Linked DNA regions of Homo sapiens. The protein of the gene in region 3 interacts with the protein of the main gene of each other region in a biochemical or structural test. Each region holds a gene or a part of one and is shown on either strand. Other genes may lie near its edges.

Evidence for each region.
Region 1: the proteins of PLD2 (region 3) and PRKCD form a complex in vitro, tested with the Homo sapiens proteins (one study listed by BioGRID).
Region 2: the proteins of PLD2 (region 3) and ARF1 form a complex in vitro, tested with the Homo sapiens proteins (2 studies listed by BioGRID).

Annotation. Positions count from the first base shown.
Region 1 is NC_000003.12:53,164,193-53,171,217, forward strand, and holds part of PRKCD (protein kinase C delta type), read left to right. Parts: exon of another isoform or gene 1-911; 5' UTR 912-1,023; intron 1,024-4,510; exon of another isoform or gene 4,511-4,590; coding exon of another isoform or gene 4,591-4,628; intron 4,629-7,025.
Region 2 is NC_000001.11:228,085,692-228,092,716, forward strand, and holds part of ARF1 (ADP-ribosylation factor 1), read left to right. Parts: intron 1-7,025. UniProt on the Homo sapiens protein: Small GTPase involved in protein trafficking between different compartments. Modulates vesicle budding and uncoating within the Golgi complex. In its GTP-bound form, triggers the recruitment of coatomer proteins to the Golgi membrane.
Region 3 is NC_000017.11:4,810,152-4,817,176, reverse strand, and holds part of PLD2 (phospholipase D2), read right to left. Parts: intron 6,376-7,025; coding exon 6,226-6,375; intron 2,760-6,225; coding exon 2,676-2,759; intron 2,545-2,675; coding exon 2,466-2,544; intron 1,702-2,465; coding exon 1,591-1,701; intron 1,414-1,590; coding exon 1,243-1,413; intron 636-1,242; coding exon of another isoform or gene 597-635; exon of another isoform or gene 558-596; coding exon 431-557; intron 241-430; coding exon 122-240; intron 102-121; coding exon of another isoform or gene 32-101; coding exon 1-31.

The DNA of each region.
Region 1 (7,025 bases), on a different chromosome or scaffold from region 3:
TCCCAGGATATCTCCAGGCCTCAGTTTTTTCAGCTGTGTAATGGGCACAATAGTAATGTGAGAATCACCTGAACTGTAAGGCACAAGAGATTAAAAAATGTCACTCTTCAGTCTGGGCACGGTGGCTCACACCTGTAATCCCAGCATTTTGGGAAGCCGAGGCAGGTGGATCACTTGGTCAGGAATTTGAGACCAGCCTGGCCAACATGGTGAAACCCTGTCTGTACCAAAACTACAAAAATTAGCTGGGTGTGGTGGCGCGCACCTGTAATCTCAGCTGCTCAGGAGGCTGAGGCACGAGAATCACTTGAGACCAGGAGGCAGAGGTTGCAGTGAGCCAAGATCGTGCCATTGCACTCCAGCCTGGGCGATAGAGTGAGACCCTGCCACATTAAAAAAAAAAAAAAGTCACTATTCATTTGGCATTCTCAACATGAGTCCAGCACAGGAGCTGGCACGCCACATCATTGGAACCTCAGAACCACCTGGGGAGAAGAGGCTAGTAGTTTCCCCATTAAAAAAACTGAGGCTCAGGGAAATTGCACCAGGACATAAAGTGGTGGTACTTTGTTGCACCCTAGGACTCCTAAACCTGCAAGGCAACCTCCCACAGACAGGAGGGTCAGGAACAGGTTTTTGCTGTGTTATTGGCTTCCTCACCAGGCTGGAAATGTGCTCAGGGCAGGGACACAGTGTTCCAGCCCCTACCATGGAGTGGACAAATAGTGGTGCCCAGGAAAAGTTGGGCCCAACACCACATTTCAAGGAAGGGAAAGCCACATCCAGAGAGACCCGAGGTTTTAGGTCCAGGAGAGACTGAACTGGGCCCGTCAGCCATGCTGGGACTGGTAGACGGGGAGAGCCTGTTTGGCGGTGCCTCCCGGCTCAGCTGTTTCCTCCTGTTCCTACAGGTCTGCAGGGAACTGGCCAGGCAAGGGGGCAGGCCCGTTTCTCCTGGTGGTTGGTGCGTTGTAGCAGCAGCGGGAGCCAGGACTAAGGACAAGCAGGAGCTGGGAGCCCCAGGTAGGACTGAGTTCTCTTAGGCAGATGGATGGTGCACCGGTGTAGCCTTCCTCTCTGGCCTCTTTGTCCTTTGCTGTGGAACTGGATGGGGTTGGGCATGCATGCAGAGTCCTTGATCTGGTTGTGGGCCCTGTGTGCCCAGGGGCCGCAGCTGTTTGCCCTGTCTATGAGGGGCTCTCTGCTCATGAGGAACTTCCTGCCTAACCTGGCTGTGGCCCCAGAATGCTCTCACCTTGGAGCTCAGAGGCCTGGGGCCTACCATTAATTTGGGGCAAAAAGTAGTAACGCTTTTTTGGTCAGTTAGAGAGGGTGGCTCATGGGCCAAAGATTGAGGGTGGGTGTGTCAGCTTTTCCATGGCCCTGTATCTGCCTCAAACTCACCTCATCATCACACAAGGACACTGAAATTCCCCGTGGGCCCCACAGTGGGTTGGACACTGCAGGGGGATGGAATGGGGTCTCCAGCTCCAGGTACAGCTGAGCTGTCTTCCACACCCCAGGCCCCTCCATTTTCCCCAGCTTCTCTGGAGCCCGAGCAGGGCTCAGTCCCTCTCTTCAGCTTCCAGATTCAAGGGGAGCTAGGCAGAGTCTGGAACAATGCTGGGAAGGCTGCAGTCTCTTTGAATCCCCTCAGAAAGCTAGAAATTCCTTGTTTTGGGGCGAGCCTTGCCTCCTTCAGCCCTATTACCATGAAAACATTGCTGTGGGTGACTCCATACTCATTCCAGGCTGGTGACTGGGTGACCGGGCCCCAGTGAACAGGGTACTGGTGGTGGGTATGGGTGCTAATGAAGCTGGAGCCTCGGAGTAACAGTGGGGGGATAGCAAAGACCGTCTTTCCTCCAGGAGTGCTCCCTGAGCAGACCCTCACAGCCAACCCTACTGGCTGTTACGCACCTATAGGTCTGTGAGTAGAGCCATAAAGGCTGGGCTTCCTGGGCCTGACTCTGGGTTGGGGGCAGAAGGGAGGTCAGGGCCTTCACTCTGGGGTAGGAGTTGGGACAGAACAGGAGCAGTCTTCACTGGGCCTTCTGTGTATTGGACCTGTCCCTAAACCTGGTGTGGAGGAAGTAAAGCGCCTTTGGCTGTCTAGGGGCCTCTGCCACCTAAGTTCTGAAGAGCCAGCCCTTTCCGTCACTCAGCCTTGTTTTGTAAGGAGTTTGATTAGTCTTGGAGACAGCCCACTGTAAACCCTCAGACATCACCCTCCAGCTGCACAGACATATGCGTGCTCACACAGGGATATGGCAAGCTAGGCTGCAGTGGGCATGCACACCCACAGACTCATGAGTTCCTGTACGTGCACCACACATGTGGGCATGCAGGTACACAGGTGCTCACATGCAGCCACCCATGGCACACTCACACACACACAGATGCTCTCCCAGTTACCGTTGGCATCCATGCACTCAAATGCCTGCCCACACATACCGCACTGTGCCCATTCTGGGGTCAGGAAGGGGTCCCTGGTCAGAGTTACAGCCCAGTCAGGTCGCCTGCATCTGGCACCTGAGGGGCAAGTTCCAGGTGTGGCTGTGATCTCAGTAAGGGGGGCTGGGCCACCCTGGTAGGTGGGCTCTGCCCATGCATTCAGCAGCCACCCTGCCCACCTGGCCCCAGGCTCCAGGCCGACCAGGGATTGGCATGGGAGATGGGAGGCATGAATGCGGGGGAGAGGCTGTGTCAGCTGTGCCAGCACTGTGTGCCTGCTGCTACAGCAGAGGAAGTAGGCTGTCTGGCCATGGGGCCAAGGTGCTCACAGTGGGTGGGGGTCCTATCAACTCCTGTGTCCCCCACGGTGTCCATGCCTAGAGGGAGTGGAGTTGCTGGGCTCTAGGGACTGAGAGGTTGGCAGGGGCTGTCTGTTCACTTCCCAAAGCCTGGGCCTAGGAGAGAGGCCCATCTGTTCAAGGCGTTTCCGGAGGCTTACTTCCTCTGAGCTGCCCAGGAAGTGGTTTTGGAGTGGGACTGACCAGCCCTCTGTCAGTGGCTCTACGCCTTGCTCCGCCCCTGCCTTGCCTGCCCAGGGGAGCAGCGTCTGGCCACCGGGTTAGGCTGACTGACCAGGCTTTTCACTGCCAGGGCTGCCCAGGCCTTTTTGGGGGGCTCTAGGAGAAGGGCAGGGGGCAGGTCACGAAGTCCCCTGCAGTCCCCACAACCGTGGCTCCTTTCTTGCTCTGAGCCTGTAAGCCGAGGCTCAAGAGCATCAACTCTGGTAGGCATGGCCCCCTTGAGAGAGGTGATGGCTGGGCTGCATCTTAGTGACTAGGCAGCTCCCAGCAGCTCTATGAATGAACCTGGGCAAGTGGCTCTGCCGCTCAGTGCCTCAGTCTCCCCCTGACAGATGAGATAATGATAGCATCCATCTTGATGAGGTTGTGCGGAAATGACAGATAACATATGCAAAGTAGCTGGCATCGTGCTTAGTGCATTGTCAGAGTTGAATGAGTAGAAACTGTAGTTATGTAAAGCATTTAGAGCCCAGTTCATGGGAACTATTCAAAAAATAGCAAGTGGGACTGATGAGGGGGTATTATTATCTGATGGGCTGGGCACTGGCCCAGTGTTACATGGCCAGGTGGCTGTGGAGCCTGGCTGAGGAGCCAGGTCTCTGACTCCCTCATCCCCCTCAATTCTACCTCCAGTGGCAGTGCCCTACTTGTTCAGTAGGTTCCATGCCCTCCGAGGAGAGGAGCTCCTGTTGGAGCAGCTCCACCCACTCAGCAGTCCAGCCCCTGCCTGCTCTTCTCCCCCTCACTCCCTTTCAAAGGGAGAAAATAGATCTCGTGACAAATGGATGCAGGGAGGGGAAAGGCAGTCTGCAGCTGCCTGCTGCCCCCTCAGGGCTCCCCTTGGCCCTCTCCAGCTCTGGCCTCCTGCAGGACATTAGGCTGGGAGAATTGGCTGGGAACGAGGGGGTGGACGTAAGCCCTCCTGCCAGCCTGCTTACCCTTCAGACCCCTGGAGTCAGCCTGTGGGCTGGGGCAGGGAGTGGGCATCTGGGACTGATGGAAGCTAGAAGAGTAGGGGGAGCTAGAAAACCCCCTACACCCATGGCAGCTGGGGGCAGGGCCCAGCCTGTCCCAGGGACACGAAGAAGGTCAGCACAGTTAGGGTTGGGCTAAGCATTGGCCTTCACTGTGTGGGGCCCAGAGGCTGGGGATGAGGAGTGTTGAGGAGTGGTAAGGACAGTGATGCAAACAGCAGGGGCCTGAGGGCTGGAGAGCGAAAGGTGGATGGGCCTGGGCGGGAAGTGTGGTTGAGGGTATCCTGAAGGCTTAGGAGCAGGACTTCTGCAGGCATCAGACAGACCCTGGTTGAATCCTTGCTCAATATTTACTGGCTGTGCACACTTGAGCCAGGGACTGGACCGTTCCCCACTTGCCTCGTCTGTGAAATGGGCAGATCACGGGGTGTGGTGTCCTGTGAGACATGAACGATGGGAAGGAGCCACTGTGTGGGGTGGGGTGGAGCAGGAAGACGGAACAGCAAGCCCAGAGGCTCCTAAGCGGGAAGGAACTGGCTGCTTCGGGAACTGAAAGGGGTCAGCGTGGCTGGGGCACAGGAATGAGGGAAAGGCAGCGCCTGCCCGAGAGGTCAGGGAGGTAACGGTGATGGGGAGGGGGGTGGCGGGGGGCAGGCTGCATGGAGCAGGCTGAGGGGAGGAGTCTGGGCTTGTCAGAGGGGCAATGGGAGGCACTGGGGGCTTGGGCAGGGGGTGACAAAATCTGTCTGAAAAGCCCCGTCTGGTGGCTGGAACAGGGGGACTGTCGGGCCGGGGTAGAGGATGGAGAGCAGTCAGAAGACAGGTGCAGAGCCTGGGGATGGTGGTGGTGGGAGAAGAGGATTTGAGACTTGAGGACAGGCTGCAGCGGCAGACGGGATGGCCTTATTGTGTGGGGAGCAGGGGGAGCTGTCTGGCCTGAGCCACTGCCTGAGCTCGTGCACTCCTAGTGGATGAGGAGCGCTGGGAGGGGAACGGCGGGGGACTGGTGTGGGCAGGCTTGAGCTCTTCTGGAGTCATTCATGTGGTGAAGCCAGGGAGGCAGGTGGGGCCACAAGCCTGAAGTTCAGGAGGGTCTGGGCCCAAAGTAGAGACGGGAGCCTAAAGCCAGGATTGGGGAGGAGAGGGCTCAACAGGCCTTCTAAGGGGTGGGGGAGCATTTGAGAGGCCCACGAACAGGACTGGGATGGCTGTCCCTCAAAGGTCTCTGCCAAGGCACCCAGGAGGGCAGGCTTGTGGTGGCTGAGCCGCTGTTTTCACAACAGCTCCGGAAGCTTTGGATCATGTCTATGGCCGTGTTGGGTAAACAGGCAGAGCAGAGCAGGCAGTCGCCAAGGCCTGAGGCTAGATCAGATGTCTGCGTGGTGTAGGTTGTGGGCTGGGGTTGTTGGGGTGGGAGGAGGATCCCAGGGTCCTCCAGTGTCAGGGCTGGAGAAAGCTTAGAGGTCTCCATTGTTGAGACAGGGAGGCTGGAGCCCCGGGAGGGGCAGTAGCTGGCCAGCCTCTGCCAGTGGACTCATGCTGCCTGCTTCAGCCCAGTTCTGCCCAGAGCCTCAGGCCAGAACAGGGCACCCTGCGGCTGGGGGGCTTAACAGAGCCTCTTTTCCCACTTTCCAAGGAAGTCTGGAAGACACCAGAGCACTTGGGCCAAGATCGCGGAGCACCCAGGCAGCAGATCTGAGCTAGGCCTGTCTAGGTCCAAGCTCGCCGGTTCCTCTGTCCGCTGCCTGCTGTGGGATGGCGCACCATGCGGGATGGTCCTGCCTCTCTCCCAGCTTTCTCAATATCCCCAAAGTGGGGAAGCATCATGTGGATCCTGCCCAGATCCTGGGGATGACTGGCAAAAGGGTTAGGTGGCCATCTTGCCTTCTCCCAAACACAAAACGATTGTTTCCAATGGTAAACCATCTGGAAAATCGTGGGAACTCTGTGGGAGAAAGAAGGGCTAAGGAGTAGGGCTCTTGTACTGGGGGCTGATGGAGGAGCTGTTCCCATCTCCAAACACATACCCTCACCCCATTGGAGGCCAGATGGGCAGTTCTAGGACTAGAGCTGGAAGTTCTCTCCCCACTTCCCCCTGGGTCTGCCCCATTGGCTTTGTGGCTTTGGTTGAATTGCTCAACCTCTCTTTCGGTTTCTGCACAGTGAGCCTGGAGCTCAAGGAACTTGCTCCTGGGGTGCCCGGCTTGCTGCCCTACCAACATAGGTTCAAGCCCTCCCCTCCCCCTGCGCGCCAGGCCTGTGACTGCCACCTGTGACCTTCAACCTCCACCATAGCCTCAGGGCCCTGCAGGCAGGTGGGCGGGCGGGCGGAGGCCTGCCCAGTGATGTGCCTGACCAGCCCACTCCTTCCCTTACACACTTTAGACTTTGCTCTGGATCAAGAGGGACTTTCTTCGTCTCCCTGGGTGGAAAGGCCCAGCCTAGCCTGACACCAGCTGCCCTTCTGCCCCTCCTCCATTCCCCAGCCATTGTGCCTGGGGGCTGTGGTGGAAAAAGCTGCATTTGGACTTCATGGTGCCAGACTCTAGTCAGGGATGTGGGGTCCTTCCAGGACTGTATGTTTGTTTCTGTGTCTGCCTGGAGCATCTCTGTGCCAGTGTGTACATCACAGCTTGTGGCACTCCACGTGCGTGTGGAGCCTATGTGGTCGGGTGTGGTCTGTGTGGGCCCGGGTATCTGTTGAGATGTGAGAGCCGGTGAGTGCATGTGTGTTTCTGTGTGTGTGTGTGTGTGTGTGTACGTGTGCCCCTGTGTCATCACAGCAGTGTGTGTACGTACCTGTGGCTCCAACTGTGTGCGTGTGTGTCTAATGTCGAGTGGGGCTCCCTATGTGCTGTTTGGGTTGGCGAGTGTGCCTGTGTGCACACGTGTGGTTATTCGTGGAGAGGCCCGGCTGCATCCCCCACCCTGGCTCCTCACAGAGGCCCCTTGTCCTCACAGGATCTGGCTCTCTGGCTCCTGCCATGAAGGGGCCTTTGTTCCTCTCTCAGGGGTA
Region 2 (7,025 bases), on a different chromosome or scaffold from region 3:
GGCAGATTTTCACAGGCACAGCAATTGAAAATGATTCTGTTTAGAAGGCAGACATTCTCCCACACCCTTGAGGCCCAGGGCTCACTGCTGGTGTACAGCATGAAGTGGACAGGAGAGTTGATTCAGTCCATGAACATTTCAGGAAGTTAGAAGTCTATAGTTGTGGATTGCAAAATACATATCTGGCCTGCCTCCCATTTCCTGGCTAAAATACTTGGAATCTCCGAAGTGATGATGTCTTTTTGTACCCTAATGAGTTGACCAGTGATGGGCAGCCCCTACGAAACTTCAGGGTAGGGCTAGTCACAGGGCCAAGGCAGGATTAGAGGGTTTCAGCCCCACCCTCCAATTTTCCCAGAGTGGAGAGGGACTGAAGATTGAGCTGGTCACCAATAGCCAATAATTTAATCAATCACACCTATACCATGAAGTCACACTTTTGCCTTCAGTAGTTAACAGCATCTACAGCCCCGTGTTTCCACATTTGTACAAAGGAATGTTCAGACTGAACCACACTTAAGTACAATTTTGAAACAGCATGAGGCTGGGCGTAGTGCCTCACGCCTGTAATCCCAGCACTTTGGGAGGCTGAGGCGGGTGGATCATGAGGTCAGGAGATTGAGACCATCCTGGCGAACATGGTGATACCCCGACTCTACTAAAAATACAAAAAAATAGGCCAGGTGTGGTGGTGTGCACCTGTAGTCCCAGCTACCCGGGAGGCTGGGGCAGGAGAATGGCGTGAACCCGGGAGGTGGAGCTTGCAGGGAGCAGAGATCGCGCCACTGCACTCCAGCCTGGGCAACAGAGCGAGACTTTGTCTCAAAAAAAAAAAAAAGAAAAAAAAGAAACAGCATGAAATTCCTTGTTGATGGGAAATACCCGAAAGGCCTGCCTGGGTTTTCAGAGAGCTTCCAGAAAGCTGAATTCATGGAGGTTCCTGGAGAATGGCACAGCCAGGAGGGAAAGGTAGCGCCGTGTCTCTTCCCTCATACACCGCCCACTGCATCTCTCCATCTGTATCCTTTGTAACATCCTTTATGAAAAACCAGTAACCTTTAGTGTTTTTCTGAGTTCTGTGAGCCACTCTAGCAAATTAATTGAACCCAAGGGGAAGGAGTTATGGGAACCCTGATTTATAGATGGCTGTCCAGAAGCACAGGTAAAATAACCTGGAGTTTGTGATTGCCTCCAGGTAGACAGTGTCAGAATTGAACTGAATTAAACGACACCTAGCTGGTGTCTGCTGCAGAACGCAGAACTGGTTGCTTGCTTGGCATGTAGGGAGAAACCCCTGCTCATGTGGTGTGAGAAGCGACCTGTGTTATAAGAGTGTGTGAGAAACTGAGTTTGGGTTTTCCTATGTCCTCAAAATAGTATATTTTGAAAGCCTTCTAGGCAGAATGTATTAAAATAGTTTTTACTCCCTGAAGGGATGCCAGCAAGCTAGAAAGATTCATTTCCAAAGGGCTTCCAGTGGTAGCATGGCTAGACATGAGACATCTTTCCATTTGTGTCATACAGCAAGTTATTTTTGCAGTACCATATACGCTATGCGGGAAACTTTTAAGTATTTTATAGGTTTGATTTAGGTACAAATGGCCAAGAAGCTATCATCTATACTCATCCTGGGGATTGGGAACGGAGGCAGTTAGATGTGCCTGTGCTTTGTACCTTCTGTAGATGGGAATGCAGTTGCTCACTCACCAATCAAATTTATTGATTTATATTTAAAATACTATGAATACATCTTCTGGCAATTTTGGTGGTGACATTTTCCTTAAAATATTTGTACTAGCCAGGCACTGTGGCTCACACCTGTGTAGTGCAATCTACTTGGGAGGCTGAGGCAGGAGAGTGGATCACTTGAACCTAGGAGGTCAAGGTTGCAGTGAGCTGTGATCATAACCACTGCACTCCAGCTTGAGTAACAGAGCAGGACCCTTAGCTCTTAAAAAAATTTATACCTACTCATCAGCTGAGGACCTGGGGGCAGGTTTAGAAAACAGATTTTGAACACACATCCTTCCCTCCCTCTTGTGTCTGACATCACTGAGCTGCCACACTTTTGCCTTCAGTAGTTAACAGCATCTACAACCCCATTTTCCCACATTTTTATGGTCAAAAGAATGTTCAGACTGACCCACACATGAGTACAGTTTTTAAAAAGCATGCAATTCCTTGTTGATGCGATAGGTTTTTCGTGACGAACTTAATTTTTAGGGAAAGCACATCTGCAGATGTGTACAGTTGATCTTCATGAGCCCTATGGGCCTGATAAACATTCTTTTGCCATTGTTTTCTCCTCTCCTTGGTGGTGAGTCACTTGTGCAGTGCCCAGCGGAAGAGGGTGGGAGGCTGGGGAGGAAGGCCTGTTCTGGGCAAAGGAAGCCCTGCTTGATGAGCATGAGGCTCCACGGGGGCAGTGGCTGTGACGGTGAGTGCCACACAGAGCTGCCCACACTGGTGGAGGGAAGGCAGGGAGATACCAGGACCATCCGGAAGGGGCTGAGTGTCATTTGACAGGTGCCATGTGAGCAGAGATGTGAAGGAGTGGCCCGGGACAATCAGGGCAGAATCCCTGAGGTGAGTGCGCTGGCTGGCAGAGTTTGGAGACCTGTCAGGAGTAGGGTGCATACTGGGTGGGAAGCCTGCTGGGGTGTGCAGTGGCCCTCGGAGGGGGTCCGCGGTTCCCAGAAAAAGGAATTTGGTAATCTGTGGTGGCATTTTTGGGTGGCAGCACTGGCACCTTTGGCAGTGGCAAGAACACTTCCTGTCTGACCTTCATGTAGGGGAGGTCGTCTGATGTCCCAGACCTGTTATAAATATGAAAAAAAAATTTTTGTGCATAGTTTTAACAGGTGTTCTGAAGTTCCAGGAACAAAATCACCTTATAAATCAAAGATGACTGTGTATTGTTCTCTTCAGAATCACAGCAAGAATTCAGTTTCCAGAAGGAAAAGCTACAGTAGTTGCTTCATGGACATGGCTTGCCCTTGAGGTTGGTGGTGTCAGTGCATGAGCAGCCTGGTAAGGGTGGTTCTCTGGCCGCCACCCTTGGTCCTCTAGCGTGGTTGTGAAGTCACTTTCCTTTACTCCCCATTGCATCATAGTTGGGACAGAGCAGTGGTTCTCTGCCGTCTTGTGCGAGTGCTGGGATGCTGTCTCTACTTCCTTTTGGGTTGCCAGAGGCAGCATTTAGAGCACAGTGTGGGCATTATGTTGTGGACCAAGGCAGCCTATTGCAAGGACCTGATCGGGCGGCAGCCGTGGGGCAGCTCTGAGTAGAACATCGGGTCACCTGGCTGACTGGTGTGCTGAGAACACGCAGGAGGAGGCTGGAGACGGGGTTCTTGCCTGGGGAACAGGAGGGAGGCTACTCGCATCACAGCGGAGAATGCCTGTTGGGTTTGGGAGGGGGGTTTCGGCTGCAAAGCTGGCTGTCAAGGGGCAGGAATTGGGAGGAGGGTCTAAAGTCTTGAAGAGAAATGTGGGGTCGTTGTGTAGGGGCCACCATCACCTGGAGAGCAGGGCAGATGCCAGCGTGTGTGTGAGAACTAGGTCACTTGAAGGGAGGTCCCCAGAGTGTCCCCGGGGTGTGCCTTTCTCTCACCTAGGTCTGGAGTGCCTCCAGAAGCGAGGATTTCCTGCAAGGGCGGTGGCCTCCCAGGGTCTGTGGGGGGGCATCCCCGTCTCTTTACATGTCTGACTGACCAGAGTGGGGTGGGGTGGCAAGGTGGTGCTCGTCCCAAAGCTGGGGGAAACCTGGTGATGGTTCCCACTCCCATTGTTGCACTTCGCTTTTGATTTCTCTGGAAGAGCAAGTCTTTGTGTGGTGTTTCCCCTCAGCCTACATTTTTAAAATGAACGTTTCTTGAAGGCAGAAATCAAGTTTTAGGCATTGGCTCAATCACTGGTGCAGCCATTGCATTAATTTTCTTTAACCTGGTGCGGAGAAGCTACAAGGGCCCCACCCCCTTCTAGTGGTTGGAGGAAGGAGCAACTTGCTCTCCCAGTTTATGACAGCAACACCAGCAGTGTGCTGTTCCAGTTCCCCTTTTTTTTTTCAAGTGGTGTAGAAAGGGGCCTTCAGGGCCCTGGATCCCCCAGCCCCACACAATGGTGGGCCTATGTTCGTCCAGAACAGTGCCTGGCAGTAGCTCAGTGCCCAGCATGTCTGTGGTGAGTGTGTAGTTCAGGAAGTGAACTGGCAAAACTGAGTATCACCCTCTCTTCCTGGGTTCTTGCCACTCCCCTGAAAACCAGGGTAGCATTGTCACATCAGATAGCTCCGCTACGTGTGCGCTGACCATGCTGAGATGGGCACTGTGGACTCAGCCTCTGGTCATTGCTGGAACCAGCGGCCTCCATGTGAGGTACAGGGGAACGCACTGCTAGCAGATGGTTGGGATGTGGACACTCGTCCTGCCCTCTTGGCTTGGTGCTGTGCCATCGCACAGTCATTCGCTGTTTAGCATGCATGGGAGAGAGTGAAGCACAAGGGCCCAGGCCCCTGGGAGTGCCTGCCCTCAAGTTGGAAGAGCCCTTGGGCACAGCATAGGCGCCTGGCAGAATTGGACTGGGCCATGATCCAGGGCATTGGGACCTCACCTAGGAGTTGGGGTTCTGGTCAGAAGCCCTGTGGAGACAGGGTCTCCCCTGTGGGCACCAAACTGACCTCAAACTGCTGGTTCTTTGGCCCTGGGGACGGGGCTGGTTGAAGTACTCTCCCGGCAGCTGTCACCTGCAGGGAGAGGTGGGGGTAGGGGTGCTGTGTTTCTTAGCTGTTCCTCGTTGCAGTGTTAAATCCCTGCAGGTTCCTTATTCTCAGCTTGTGTTGTGAGTTTCAGTGTTGGGGGCTAATGTGGGTTTGCGTTTTTGGTCTTGGTTTTCCCAGTGGCCAGTCCATCAGCCACTGCACTGGGGGCCAGGTAGAGGCCAACTGCACCCTGCCTGCCAGAGTAGAAATACTGGTAGGCCCCAGGCTCTGCTGCCCCTTCCATGTCCTTGTGTAAGCATCCATGGACAAAGCTGACTCACGGGGTGTGCACAGCTGCAGGGAGGCCAGGAAACAGGGGTTTTATTCTAGAGGGCCTTGTGCTCAGTGACAGACCAGAGTCCCATCACTGAGAGAGCAGGGCTGGGGCAGCACAAAGGACTGGAGAGCATTTGCCATGATGCCATGTGCACAGCCAGTGCAAGTCCTTCATTGTAGCTGTGGTCAGAGGTCATGAGACACTGCCTTCAGCAGCCCTGGGAGTCCACCTGGTGTGTGGTTAGAGCTGTGCATCTGCAGATTTCAGAAGGACTTACGTTTGGTGAGGTGCTTTGAAGTAACACTTCACAAATACCAAGAAGCAAGAAATACACAAATAAGCAGGTAATGGTTCTTTGGTGTTTACATTAGCTAGTGGGCAACGGTTCTTTGGTGTTCACATTAGCTATAGTCCCAGAACTCAGTCCATGAGGTGGAATCACAAAAATGGAATTCATTTCTGGCTGTCAGTACACAAACTGATTTAAGATATCACCTTGAATTTTAAGCTGACAAACAGTGATCTAAACTGAATTTCACTGATTGCCCCACCTGAAAGTCAGACCTGATAGATAATGCCCTCCCTTAACTCAAGGCCAGCAGCAGATGTGTTAGAGGGGACCCTTGTGCCTCGCAGCCCTCATCTCCTAATGGCTGTGGGGTCACTGTGTCGAGTTGTAATGCCTAATGAGCTCCTCTAAAAACATCCTGAAACTTGTGTAAAAAAAACAGCAGACTCCCAGTGGAACTCGCCTTCAGATGCAGCCCAGAATAAGAGTTCTAGAATGTGTGTGCCATCCTTTTGTCTCAATCTGCATGATTGCAAGTCTCTTCAACATGATTGGGTGCGTGGAGTGTCTCGGTCATGTGTCTTCCCCTCTGAGCATGCCTTTTGATTCGCACCTGTGTCACAATTGTGCCAGCCTGTGAGATGTGTCTGCCTGTCACCAGTATCGGCACATTTAGTTTTCCCTTTACGTGAGTTTTGGTAAAATAGTGACAAAATGTAATGCAGTGCTCAGTCACAGAAAAATGTCAGGCCTACAGAAATGGAGCATTTGGCTGGCGGGTAGCGTGATGACCATAGGCTTTATTTGGCTGGTGTGGTAAACAAGCAGCAGCTTGTGCAGGTGAGAATAAATGGCCATATTGCATTTCATTTTAAGGACTCCCTTAAAATGAAAATCTTCGTGTGGGACATGAACACAGGCTTTCACGAAATTGATCATCTACACTATATGTATGACTGTTGAAAGGCTGTTGTTCCTCAGAAATTCTTAAAATGTTATGTAATGTACATGAGTCCCTTCAGGAAGTCATCAGCTTTGTTCAGTTTCCTCAGATTAGATAGTAAAACTGAGATTATGAACTATAAAGATGTGTGTAATTTATCTGTCAGTGAACTTGACTTTAATAAAAGCTTTTTGAAAAAGAACTCTGGGTGGGGTGCATTGGCTCACACACATAGTCCCAACTACTGTGGAGGTCAGGGCAGGAGGATCACTGGAGCCCAAGAGTTCAAGATCAGCCTGGGCAGGATAGCGAGACCCTGTCTATAGAAAATATTAAAAATCAGCTAGGCATGGTGGCTTGCCCTTGCATTCCCTGCCACTTGGGAGGCTGAGGTGGGAGGTTCGCTTGAGCCCAGGAGCTCAAGGCTGCAATGGGCTGTGATCGAACCACTGAATTCCAACCTGGGTGACAGAGTGAGGCCCTGTCTCAAAAAGAGAACTCTCGATGTCACTGGCTTTCCATGTAAGCAGAGCACATCATGTGAGCCCCATTCGTGGATGTCAGTCAGCAGAACAGAATCTTGGACCTGGAGCTTGTTTGTCCTGTGCTAGAGGTTGGAGGTGTCTCTGTCTTTCTGTTGGTTCCTGTCAGTTCAGGTCACTTAGAGATTCTGTTACATACACCAGCTCTGACAGGTTGGGGGAGATGATCAACCTTCCGCCTGCGCCTGTTCCCTTCCCTGACTCATGCCAAAGTA
Region 3 (7,025 bases):
ATGTGGGAGTCTTGTACTTGGCCTTGGTGGTCTGACGTGGAGGGATGGCAGAGTCAGCAGGAGGTGCCAATCTGCCCTGGCTCCCTCCCTACCTCCAGCCCCTATCGGAGGGAATGAACACCTTGGTGAAGTTCCAGCGCTGGATGAAGTGCCGGGCAAGGTCCCGGGCCGGTAGGCCATGGACGACCACCCCAACGTCCCGCCATGGCATCCGAGGGGTCGTCTCCCTGTCAATGAAATCTGGGGGGTCCCAGGAGAGTCAGGGGAGATGTCAGGGCTGGACTCCTTGGGACACTTGGGGCAGGGAGAAAGAGCCTGCCAGAGGGAGGGCTGTACCACCGTTGACCCCTCTCATCCCACTCTCAGTACCAGCCCCAGCTTCTGACCCTGCTCTCAGCTCTCTGGGGCTTTGGCGGGTGGGAGGCTTCACCTTCGAAAGGCCGGTCCAGCTGCACCCAGTCCTTGGTGATAAGATTGCTGTAGTCCTTGCCCAGCCAGAAGAATTGGTTGTGAGAGAGGTCTGGGGTGGCTGGTGAGTCTGGGCGCGGGGTGGGAGGCTGTAGGGGGAACACACCCAAGCCAGGGGCAAGGGGAAGTCATGGGGCTGTACAGAGCCAGGGCCAAAGAGAGGAGCACTGAAAGAGTGAGAGAGACCGAGAGGAAGAATGAAACAGAGGGTCTGATTCCCCAGCCCTCCCCTCCAGTTGCCTTTGACACTTTTAGAGGAATGGGGTGATGGTCAGTGAAAATGGGGAAAGGACTGGGTGGGTGACAGCACTTTTTTTTTTTTTTTTGAGACAGAGTCTCGCTCTGTTGCCCAGGGTGGAGTACAATGGCACAATCTCGGCTCACTGCAACCTCCGCCTCCTGGGTTCAAGTGATTCTCCTGCCTCAGCCTCCCGAGTAGCTTCAATGACAGGCAACTGCCACCATGCCCAGCTAATTTTTTGCATTTTTAGTAGAGACAGGGTTTCACCATGTCGGTCAGGCTGGTCTCGAACTCCAGACCTCAGGTGATCCACCCGCCTTGGCCTCCCAAAGTGCTGGGATTACAGGCATAAGCCATGGCTCCCGGCCAGTTACAGCACTTTCAAAGTGGGTTCTTGGAGTCCCAGAAAGTCTGAGGAACCCTGAGGTTGGCAGGGCCTGGAATGACTGAGGGGGTAAGGCTGGAGCTGGGAAATGGTGTTGATTGAGCTTATCTGAGTTTGGGGGTGCTCAGGAAGGCCTCAGGGGGATTACCTGGGAGGCAGCTGATTCAGAGGAGTCTCCAAGGTCAGTCAGTCGGTAGTGCAGGTCATCCCAGCGGCCATAGGCAAGGTCCAGTCCCCCCAGGAATGCTACCACTTGGTCCACCACCAGGAGCTTCTCATGATGGGCCCACAACGTCACTTGGTCTGGGTGACGCATCACCTGGAGCAGGCATGGAGGGTTCATGAGGGTGGGTTTAGGTGAAGGAAAACAGGAGGTACTGGGAGGGAGAGAGGAAAGATGGAAAGATGAGACCATCAGGGAGCGGGAGCGCTGGGGGCTGGGACAGTGTGGGGAGAAGGGCTGTCATGTGGGAGGGTCTCTGAGGCCGAGAGTCACCTTTATGTTGGGGTGCAGCAGCATCAGCGCCCTCTTGCTATAGCCACTGTTGATGCCCAAGGCCAATTCCACTTCTTTAAACAGCAGAATAGACACACGGACACCCTCCTCCTGGTGGTGAGTTGGGGAATCAGATCCTAGTGCCTCTCCCAGAGTAGCCCCTTTCCACACTCCCAAACCTTTTCCACGTGTGTCCCTCCAGCTTGTCTGGAGATCCTAGAGGCTCTGCCACATATGCCCTGCTTTGCTGCTTGCCACAGACTTAGACTAAATGTCATCTGTGTGCTCACCCACTCACCCATCCACACATCTATCCACCCACCCTTCATCATCCATCCATCCATCTTCCCAAGCATTTACTCATCCCTTTATGTACCGTCTATCATTCATCCATCTACCTGCCTACCCTCCTAGCCCTCCACCTTTCCAACTCATATCCTTCCATCCATCACCCTTTCTGTCCTCTATCCATCCACCTGCCCAGCCACCCTGCATCATCCATGCATCCTTCTTCCTGTCCATCAACACCACACATGCCCCCTCCATGGCAGGTACTGTGCCTTGTAGTGGAACAGTGATATTAACTAGTCCAGTGAGAGAGATAGACATGTATACCCCCAGATAACACAATAAAGTATTATGTATACTGGGAGGGAAGTCTCTGCCAGGTGGAGGGAGCATGAAGAGGAAGTTGTCAGTTCTCCTTAGGGCAGAGGGAGAGGGCGGAGGTGATGTCTGACAGGTGCTGGGCCAGGATGGACACTTTTCCCTCCCCTGAAGCCTCAGACTGCCTAATTCTCCCACACTGCAGCCCTGCTAATCAACCTCCACCCACAGGCAACCCCCTCCCCCTGCGGCCTGACCACTCTCCTCACCGCCTTCCTCTTGAGCATAATGTCCAGTCTCCAGTCATCTGAATGGGCCGGACGCTTCAGGTAAACCTCAGGACTCAACCTGGGATTCAGGGCAGTGGATTAGGGGCAAACGAAGCCCCAGACCACCAGCTGCACCCCCCTTCTCCTCCTAATGCTGATCTGCCCCAGGCTCTATCCTGCCCCATGTTGTTGGGGCCTTTTCCCACTCACCACCAGTCTGTGATGAAAATCTCCTCTTGAGCTCGAAGGATGGCATCTGCCACAGCAGCAAAGTAACCTGCCCCATTCACAAACCTGGGGGGAGGCCAAGCCAAGGAGGTCAGGGGAGTCAGAAGCCAGAAAGCTCTGGAGAGTGAAGACCGGAGGACAGTCGTGGGTCAGAGGTGACAGCAAGGTCAAAGATCAGAAATGATCAGAGAACACAAGTGGTATCAGACACATCAAAATAGTGTTTGCCCATATGCGCTAAATACAAATAAAAATTACAAAAAGACACAATAACCTAATCAACTAAAGAACAGGAGGATTAATACATCATACATAAAGAACACCAATAAATCGACAAGAAAAAGTCACATGAGCCAACTGAAAAATGAGCAAAGAGTAAGAACTGACAGTTCACAGAGAAATTAAAATGGCCAATCGTGGCAAATGTTCAGTTTCACTAGTAAACAACGAAATTAAAATGAAATTACATTTAAAAAATCCATTAGATTGGTAATAATTCAAATCACTGGTAACATTCAATATCAATATTCAATATGCTGGGGAAGTGGGTATTCTCATAGACTATGGGAATATAACTTTTAGGAGACAATTTGGCAGTATCAAAAAATATATATATAGCTTTTTGGAGATGGTGTCCCGCTCTGTCACCCAGGCTGGAGTGCAATGGCATGATCTTGGCTCACTGCAACCTCCGCCTCTTGGGTTCAAGCAATTTTCCTGTCTCAGCCTCCCAAGTAACTGAAATTACAGGCGCCCGCCACCACGCCTGGCTAATTTTTGTATTTTTAGTAGAGACGGGTTTTTGCCATGTTGGCCAGGTTGGTCTTGAACTCCTGACCCCAATGATCTACCCGCCTCGGCCTCCCAAAGTGCTGGGATTACAGGCATGAGCCAAAGCGACTGGTCAGCAGTATCAAAATATTAAATGCATATACCCTTTAATATCATTAAATATACATGGTAATTACATGTCTAGGAATACATCTAATACAATGCCTAGGCAAATGTTGTGTTCATCACATTGTTTGTAAGAGTGAAAAATGGGAAATAATATAAGTGTCTAATCTCTCACACAGGTATTAAGTGAAAAAATAAGTCACAGAAGAGGTTGCATGATCTCATTTATGTTGAAACAAAAGTAACACGTGCATGCACATGTGAAAATATGCAGGAAGGCTGGGCAAGGTGGCTCATGCCTGTAATCCCAGCCCTTTGGGAAGCCGAAGCGGGTGGATCACTTAAGGTCAGGAGTTCGTGACCAGCCTGGCCAACATGGTGAAATCCTATCTCTACTAAAAATACAAAAATCAGCTGAGCATAGTGGTGCACGCCTGTAATCCCAGCTACTCAGGAGGCCGAGGCAGGAGAATCGCTTGAACCCAGGGGGCAGAGACTGCAGTGAGCTGGTATCGCGCCACTGCACTCCAGCTTGGGCGACAGAGCCAGACTCCATCTCAAAAACCAAACCAAACCAAAACAAAACAAACGAACAAACAAAACTTCCTTCCATGACTGCCCTGTGTGCCTGTGATATTAGCACATGGGACCCTGTGAGATCAGGTGCCACTGACTCCCAGCTTCTCCTCTGACTGCTCCTCCTCACTCAGTAACAACAATATGTCCTGGTGGTTCCCAAACACCCTGAGCTATTTCTGTCTTCTGTGCCTGGACTGTTCTGCATTTTCTTTATCTTGTATAGTTCCATGAGGATCAGCAAGTGTATGTTCCCACGCAATCACCAGTCCTATCAAAATATAGGACATTTTTATCGTCCTGGAATGTTCCCTCGTGTGCCCCACTATAGGCAATCATTTCCCCATACCCTGCCACAGGCAACTGCTGATCTGATTTCCATCACTGTGGATTGGTTTTGGCTGTTTTAGAAGTTTATAGCCAGGTGCAGTGGCTCAAGCCTGTAATCCCAGCACTTTGGGAGGCCGAGGTGGGCAGATCACGAAGTCAGGAGATCGAGACCATCCTGGCCAACATGGTGAAACCCTGGCTCTACTAAAAATACAAAAATTAGCTGGACATGGTGGCATATGCCTGTAATCCTAGCTACTCAGGAGGCTGAGGCAGAAGAATCACTTGAACCGGGGAGTCAGAGGTTGCAGTGAGGTGGGATCCTGCCACTGCACTCCAGCCTGGTGACAGAGACAGACTCCATCTCAAAAAAAAAAAAAAAAAACCAAAACAAAAATTAGCTGGGTGTGGTGGCATGCACCTGTGATCCCAGCTACTTGGGAGGCTGAGGCAGGAGAATCCCTTGAACCTGGGAGGCTGAGGTTGCAGTGAGCTGAGATTGTGCCACTGCACGCTAGCCTGGGCAACAAGAGCGAAACTCTGCCTTAAAAAAAAAAAAGTATATAGGCCAGGCACTGTCGCTCATGCCTGCAATCCAGCACTTTGGGGAGGCCGAGGCAGGATGATCCCTTGAGCCCAGGAGTTCGAGACCACACCCGTCTAATTTTTAAAATTTTTTGTAAAAAAAAATGTTTTTAATTAGCCGGGTGTGGTGGCATGTGTCTGTAGTCTCAGCTACTTGGGAGGCTGAGGCAGGAGGATGATTTGAGCCTGGGAGGTTGAAGTTGCCGTGAGCCATGATCACACTACTGCACTACACGCCTGGTGACAGAGCAAGACACTGTCTCCAACAAAAACCAACAAAATTAATATTGTGTCAGTCTCTGATTTAAAGCAAAACTACCTGAGGGTCACCACCTCCTGGAAACCTGTCCTGATATCCCTGCTGGGCCAGGTACTTCCTGTCTGTGCGTGTCACCTTCTACCTATCACCAGTACGGCAAGTTCACATTGTTTCACGATTTGATCACCTACTTCCCTAACCCAGAGAGGACTGTGTGTTACTGCCAGCACTGCTAGGTGCTTAGAAAAATGTTTATTAAGGCTGGGCACGGTGGCTCACGCCTGTAATCCCAGCACTTCGGGAGGCCGAGGCGGGCGGATCACCCGAGGTCAGGAGTTCGAGAAGAGCCTGGCCAACATGGTGAAACCCCCGTCTCTACTAAAAATACAAAAATTAGCCAGGTGTGGTGGTGGGCGCCTGTAATCCCGGCTACTCGGGAGGCTGAGGCAGAAGAATCGCTTGAACCTGGGAGGCGGAGGTTGCAGTGAGCCGAGATCAACAGAACAAAACTCTCTCTCAAAAAAAAAAAAAAAAAAAAAGAAAAGAAAATGTTTATTAAATGAAGGACTAAATCAGAGAGATTTGAGAAGATCATGGAGAACAGAGAGGGTCAGTATTGTAGAGAGGGGTTTAAAAGGTTATAGGAGGTTAGAGAGGTCAAGGGTCAGAAGAGATGACCAAGTTTGGGGGTCAGAAAGGTCGGCGCGAAATCAGAGAGATCAATGTGGTTAAAGATGTCAAAGGTCAGGAAGATTAAAGAAGTCACGGGGCGGGTCATTGAGGTCAGGAGGGTTCAGATGAGAAAAGAGAGGATGAAGGACTCAGAGATTACACAGGGGGTCAAGAAAGCCACAGACAAGCTCAGAAGGGATGTCAGTGTCTCACCACCGGGCCAAGGTCCCAGGCCGGGGTGGGGCGTAGCTGTCATGCCGGTGCAGCTGTAGGAAGTCTCTGCCTGGGCCCTGTGCCAGCTCAGTGATCTCTTGGGCCCACCACCGTGCCTGCCGGTAGCTGCTGCACTTGAGAATCAAGGACCTGGATGGGAACGATGAGATGTCCATAAATCCTCGCCCTCCATACCTGTGATCTTGCCTAGAGACCTCCCCTTTCCCACTTCCTCCCTTAGTCCCTAATCACAACTGCACAGGGATAGGGCGTGTATGTATCTGCCTTATTTATTTATTTATTTTTGAGACAGAGTTTAGCTCTTGTCCCCCAGGCTGGAGTGCAGTGGTGCGATCTCTGCTCACTGCAACCTCTGCACCCCAGCTTCAAGCGATTCTCCTGCCTCAGCCTCCCAAATAGCTGGGATTACAGGCACGCACCACCACGCCCGGCTAATTTTTGTATTTTTAGTAGAGACAAGGTTTTAGCATGTTGGCTGGGCTGGTCTCGAACTCCTGACCTCAGGTGATCCACCCGCCTCGGCCTCCCAAAGTGCTGGGATTGTAGGTGTGAGCCACCGCGCCCGGCCATATCCACCTTACTCATAGTTGGATCCTAGTATTGCATCAGCAACCAGTATTGTACCAGGCACTCGGGTTTGTTGAATGAACAAATGAACAAATGGAATTTCGTTTATGTCAGCAGTTCCCTTCCCAGGCTTCTACTAATCCCCTTTCTCTGGGCCCAGTCTAAGAGCAGTCCCAAGCATCTGGCTAGACCAGTTCCTGGTTCAAAACTAT